Homo sapiens: one gene and its partner. The protein of the gene in region 2 purifies or fractionates together with the protein of the main gene of each other region. This does not show direct contact. Each region holds a gene or a part of one and is shown on either strand. Other genes may lie near its edges.

Evidence for each region.
Region 1: the proteins of PDS5A (region 2) and AKAP8 purify together in Homo sapiens (affinity purification with mass spectrometry, with the first as the bait; one large-scale study listed by BioGRID). This does not show direct contact.

What each region holds. Positions count from the first base shown.
Region 1 is NC_000019.10:15,352,873-15,355,929, forward strand, and holds the end of AKAP8 (A-kinase anchor protein 8), read right to left. Parts: intron 2,499-3,057; coding exon 2,043-2,498; 3' UTR 513-2,042; downstream 1-512. UniProt on the Homo sapiens protein: Anchoring protein that mediates the subcellular compartmentation of cAMP-dependent protein kinase (PKA type II).
Region 2 is NC_000004.12:39,967,848-39,971,501, reverse strand, and holds part of PDS5A (sister chromatid cohesion protein PDS5 homolog A), read left to right. Parts: intron 1-3,654. UniProt on the Homo sapiens protein: Probable regulator of sister chromatid cohesion in mitosis which may stabilize cohesin complex association with chromatin. May couple sister chromatid cohesion during mitosis to DNA replication.

The sequences.
Region 1 (3,057 bases), on a different chromosome or scaffold from region 2:
ATTTTATTTTTTTGAGACAAATTCTTGCTCTGTTGCCCAGGCTGGAGTGCAGTAGCGCAACCTCGACTCACTGCAGCCTCTGCCTCCCTGGTTCAAGCGATTCTTCTGCCTCAGCTTCCCCAGCAGCTGGGATTACAGGTGTGTGCCACCACACCCAGCTAATTTTTGTATTTTTGGTATAGACAGGGTTTTGCCATGTTGGCCAGGCTGGTCTTGAACTCCCGACCTCTACTGATCCACCTGCGTTGGTCTCCTAAAGTGCCAGGAATACAGGTGTGAGCCACCATGCCTGGCCGGGTCTTGGATTTTTATAAGAAGAAAAAAAAGGTGTGGGGTAGGGGAGAGCCAGGTGCAGTAGCTCATGCCTGTAATCCTGGGAGGCAGAGGTTGCAGTAAGCCAAGATCACGCCACTGCACTCCAGCCTGGGCAACAGAGTAAGACTGTCTCAAAAAAAAAAAAAAAAAGAAAAAAAAAAGAAAATTAAGGAAATAAAGCAGTTCCACTAGTGATGTTTTTCTGCACTACTGTTTAATGCTACCGACATTTTTGCCTTAAGAGAACAAGCTTAAAAGGCATGCTCACCCTGCGATTAAGACGCATCTACACAACACAAACGGATGCTGAGCAGAAATGACCCAGAGGCACCATCGTCTTTTCAAGCAGTTTATTTCCATTTTCAGTTCTAATGTTGACTTTTTCATAAATATTCACCTGGAATCTCCACTAAGGCTCCTCATGAGCAGGGCCCAATTCCTAGAATGTGCTTGGTGAGTTAGCCCCTGGTATACAGTAGAGGCTCGGCAAATATTCTACAGCCTCCTTTCTAATGATTTCCCAGTGGCCAGCGTTTCCCAACATGTGAGATGTACAGTTCAAAAGGCCACAGGGAAACTGACACAGCAGGGCCATTTCAAAAGGGGAGGATCTTCCAATTCTTCTGATTTTAGGAAATTCTGTTGCGTGCTAACCTTGAACACATGCTAGCCTCCCTTTCTCAGATTTGGAAAGATCTAAAGTAATAGTTATTTCTCTAAAATGAAACATATATTTCATTTTATATATATATATATATATTACAGATACCTTCTATCTATGGCAATTTATGTTGGATTATTCCACCTATGGCAATCACATCAAGTTTTCTTTCCTTTTTTTTTAAGAGATGGGGTCTTGCTATGTTGTCCAGGTTGGTCTTGAACTCCTGGGCTTAAGCTATCCTCTCACCACGGCCTCCCGAAGTGCTGGGATTATAGGTATGCATCACCGTGCCTGGCCAAATTCTCTTTGTAAATACATTTGAGTGGTAGTAACTAATTTTAAAGGAAAAAAACCTGAAGTAATCTAGAGGTGGAACACAAATGAGGTAAAATATTAGAGAACTGATTCAGCAAGGACTAAAGATTGGGACGCAATGCCCTCTGCACAGTCTGGTTCTTGAGGTTGCGGTGGGTGTGTTTCCAGTGGCGTAGGTCGGTCAGATACTTCTGGCCTTTGGGAGTGCGTGGATGTGACGCGGTCAGTGCCACATGTGAACCAGGTGCTGCGAAGTCCTGTGAAAGTCACACACCATATGGTGCACTACAAAGGTATAGGTTAAAGGCTGAAGCTTGAAACATACAAAAAAAAATCCTCTATAGAGCAAGATATATTCCTAGTATTCAGCTGTTCCCAACCAAATAAAAAAAAAAATTAAGGAAAAAAATAAAAAAGGAAGCATTCCATCAGTGGCTGTATTGAACAAGTAATGTATCATCAAGATATAATCACCCAACCTTTATTATTCCAAGTGCACTACTGTCAAGAGACATGTTACAGCCGCTAAGGACAATGTACTTCAGCTTTGAAACCTGGGCAAGAAGCCACACGACTGCATGAGACAAGCCGTGAGAGGCACTGCTCAGGAGGAAACGCTGGGTCTCTTCACCAAAATTAGATTACAGCATATTCTGGGAGCACACGCCCTTGTACTGCTTACAAACCAAGGGAGAAAGACCAACGCATCCATCATCCCAACGCCTTCCCTGGAACAGGGAAATGAGCATCATTCTGTGGGAACAGCGTCTTTAGACTCTGCATCAGTTTGTTCCACTTCAGCATCCGCGGCAGCTGGGGCAGGAGCAACTCTGGTTTGGGCACTTTCTGCCTCTGCTGCCATTGTCTCGGCGCCATTTCCAGCCTCTGCAGCCTCACTTCTGGCCTTGGGGACGCCCTTCTCATGTGCCGTTCCACAGGGCACCTGCTCTTCCAGCAGCTGTTCGGCTTGAGGATCACTACCGGCCTCCGCTGTGTCCGTGGGGCCTTCGTCCTCAGCCGGCTCCCCGCTGCTCTCTGGAGCGGGCGCTCCTTCCCCATCTACGGCCCTCACTGCTGCTGTAATCACCTCTGCTAAGACGTCCGCGGCCACCTCCTCAGGTGTCTCTTTCTTATCCTCACCTCCTAAATTGTCATCTCCTTCCATTTCTGGATCAACAGTTTCACTGGTGAAAGGGTCCTCACCCTGGCCAAAGAGGAAACACCGGTCAGCGTGGTGTAAGCAGAGCTCAGGAGGCCCATGATTGCGGGGATGTCAGCTTTTCAGAACCAGCAGTCCACAAGGGAAACACTTCTGTAAATTATGCCACAGGAGTGAATCCTACATGTTCTCAGAGCCTACAGATTCAGAAAACACCTCGGGGAGATATTCTGCAATTTTTTTTTTTTTTGAGATGGAGTCTCGCTGTTGCCCAGGCTGGACTGCAGTGGTGCGATCTCGGCTCACTGCAACCTCCGCCTCCTGTGTTTTTAGTAGAGATGGGGTTTCCACCCACCTCAGCCTCCCAAAGCGCTGCGATTACAGGTGTGAACCACCATGCCCGGCCCATTCTGCAATTTTTTTTTTTTTGAGACGGAGTTTTGCTTTGTTGCCCAGGATGGAGTGCAATGGCGCGATCTCAGCTCACCACAACCTCTGCCTCCTGGTTTCAAGTGATTCTCCTGCCTCAGCCTCCTGAGTAGCTGGGATTACAGGCAGGAGCCACCACGCCCGGCTAATTTTGTATTTTTAGTGGAGACGGGGT
Region 2 (3,654 bases):
GACAGCAGAGTGAGACTCTGTCTCATTAAAAAAGACCTTAAAGGCAGGCCCGGTGCGGTGGCTCACGCCTGTAATCTCAGCACTTTGGGAGGCCGAGGCGGGTGGATCATGAGGTCAGGAGATCGAGACCATCCTGGCTAACACAGGTGAAATCCCATCTCTACTAAAAATACAAAAAAATTATCCAGGCGTGGTGGCGGGGCCTGTAGTCCCAGCTACTTGGAAGGCTGAGGCAGAATTGCATGAACCCAGGAGGCGGAGCTTGCAGTAAGCCAAGATCCCACCACTGCACTCCAGCCTGGGTGACAAAGCGCGACTCTGTCTCGAAAACAAACAAACAAAACAAAACAAAAAACATCTTAAAGGCAATTACAAAGGAATTCAGCGGTGTTTGGTCCTGTTCTCGTCAGTTTTCAAGAATGGAACAAGGCTGGGTGTGGTGGCTCATGCCTGTGTAATCCCAGCACTTCAGGAGGTCAAGGTGGGAGGAACACTTGAGCCCAGGAATTTGAGATAGGCCTGGGCAACATGACAAAAACCTATCTCTACAAAAAATGCAAATATGGTCGTAGCTACTCAGGAGGGTGAGGTGGGAGGATCACTCAAGCCCAGGAAGGTCAGGGCTGCAGTGAACCGTGATCCTACCACTGCACTCCAGCCTGGGTGACCGAGTGAGACCTTGTCTTAAAAAAAAAAAAAAAAAAAAAAAAAGGAACAAGCGGTTTTACAGTGGAACCATAATCTTAGAATTAGAAGGATCTTAAAGGAAATTCTGGAACCTCCTCTTACTTCACAGATAATGAAAGTTAGGCCAAAGTATTCAAGTAACCTTTACCAAAATCAGTCACAGGGCAGTTTAGTGGCAGAGGGCAGGGGCAATAACGCCATATTTACTTTGGTTGTTATATAGTTGCTTTCTTCTAAGGAATCTAAACTAAGTAGAACTAAAAAGTTGTAACTTTTATCATGTAGTTGAAGACATTACAGTGAAATGTGAAGAGAATGAGAGTGAGTTTGGTCTTTTGTAGGGAGAAAAAGGACAGCTTTTTTTTTTTTTTTAAGCATTTGAGAGAAACTATTGTGAAGCTTTGAAGCTTCGTTGACAATAATTCTTAGAGTATGTCTTTGAAAGAGCTAAGATATGTTTTCCTATACTAGAGCTTTTCATTCCTGTTTCCAGGGCATTACTTTACCTATTTTTGTTATGTCAGGCCACAGTGGTCTTCGGTTGGTTTCCTGAACATGCCATGTTTATTTCTGTCTAGACAGGTTCCTTACATTAAATAGCCCATGTGTTCATTTGTCATTCATTTGTTACTTCTTAAGGGAAGCCTTTAAGGTTCTACATTACAGGCTGGGCGCGGTGGCTCACGCCTGTAATCCCAGCACTTTGGGAGGCCAAGGTGGGTGGATCACGAGGTCAAGAGTTCGAGACCAGTCTGACCAACATAGTGAAACCCTTTTTCTTGGAGCCGAGATCACATCACTGCATTCCAGCCTGGGCAACAGGGCGAGACTCTGTCTCAAAAAAAAAAAAAAAAGATTCTACATTACATACCCTTCAACTCCTTCATATTACATTTATCCATACATTTATTTGGTTTGTCTCTTTAGCTTCTCTGTAAACCTTATTAATACAGATACCGTGTCTGTTTTTCATTCCTCTCAGTGCCAAGCTTAATGCCTGGCACATAATTGGGTGCTGAACAAATACTTGTTAAGTGAATGAATGAATATTTTGTATTAATACTGAATTAGAGAAATATTTTTATTTTTGAAAGTAAAGGATAATTTGAAAAAATTTCAAATTGCAGCTAAGGACTTTCCTTTTTTTTGAGACCAAGTTTTGCTCTTGTTGCCCAGGCTGGAGTGCAATGGCCTGATCTCGGCTCACTGCAACCTCTGCTTCCTGGGTTCAAGTGATTATCCTGCCTCAGCCTCCTGAATAGCTGGGATTATAGGCATCCACCACCACGCCTGGCTAACTTTGTATTTTTAGTAGACACGGGGTTTTACCATGTTGGTCAGGCTGGTCTCGAACTGGTGACCTCAGGTAATCCACCCACCTCGACCTCCCAAAGTGCTGGGATTAGGGCGTGAGCCACTCTGCCTGGCTAGGACTTTTCAAACTAAGGAGTTTGTGTCTTAGAGATGGTAACATAGGTACAGTACTTAGAATTTTGGAGTCAACAGGTAGTTCAGAGGTTATGTATTTCTGTTCTAATTTTTCAGGTGAAGAAACTGACCATTTGATAGGTTGTGAACAACGCTAGTCACCTAAAGCTGAAAAGTGTCATTAACTTCTGCTACTTAGATAATAGAAGTTACAATTATATATTAATTGACAAATATTAAAACCATACTAAAGTTAGCTATGTGGAAGGATGGCCAATAGTTTAGTATCATTGTTACATTAAGAATCACAAATAGCTGGCACGGTGGCTTACGCCTGTAATCCCAGCACTTTGGGATGCCTAGGCGGGCGGATCACCTGAGGTCAGGAGTTCAAGACCAGCCTGACCAACATGGAGAAACCCCGTTTCTACTAAAAATATAAAATTAGTTGGGTGTGGTGGCACATGCCTGTAATCCCAGCTACTCAGGAGGCTGGGGCAGTAGAATCCCTTGAACCTGGGAGGCAGAGGTTGCAGTGAGCCGAGATCACGCCACTGCACTCCAGCCTGGGGGACAGGGCAAGACTCTGTCACGAGAAAAAAAAAAAGTAAAAGCATACACTGAGCAAGTGATTTTTTAAAAAATTCATATTACAGGCCGGGCACAGTGGCTCATGCATGTAATCCCAGCACTTTGGAAGGCCGAGGTGGGTGAATCACCTGAGGTCGGGAGTTCGAGACCAGCCTGACCAACGTGGAGAAACCCTGTCTCTACTAAAAATATAAAATTAGCCGGGTGTGGTGGCGCATGCCTGTAATCTCAGCTACTCAGGAGGCTGAGGCAGGAGAATCGCTTGAACCCAGGAGGCGGAGGTTGTGGTGAGCCGACATGGTGCCATTGCACTCCAGCCTGGGCAACAACAGTGAAACTCTGTCTCAAAAAAAAAAAAAAAATTAATATTATAATTAAGTAATCTAAGCACCATTGCACTCCAGCCTGGGCAACAAGAGCGAAACTCCATCTCAAAAAAAAAAAAAAAGAATCACAAATAGCCATCCTCCCATATAGTTGTGGGTTCTGAAACTAATACAGGGTTCACATCTAATAAGTGACATTTAAAATACACTTATAGGTCTGGTGTCCTCTGGCTTATGCCTGTATTTCCAGCACTTTGGGAGGCTGAAACGGGCAGATCACTTGAGCTCAGGAGTTTGAGACCAGCTTGGGCAATATGGCAAAACCTCATTTACAATAAAAATTAAAAAAATAAAATACACTTATAAATAGCTGTGCAAATTCCATAAAGGGCTTAATGGAATTAAGTTAGTTATGTAGTATATCCTATATCATGGATTACTACAGAGCTATTTACTATACACATACTTTGTTTCTTTCTTTCTTGCTACTTTGGAGGTAAGAGGGCCTTGATAATTATTGGTGTTTTTTTTGTTTGTTTGTTTGTTTGTTTTTAAGATGGAGTCTCTCGGTCTGTTGCCAGGTTGGAGTGCAGTGGCGCAATCTCAGCTCAGCCTCCTGAGT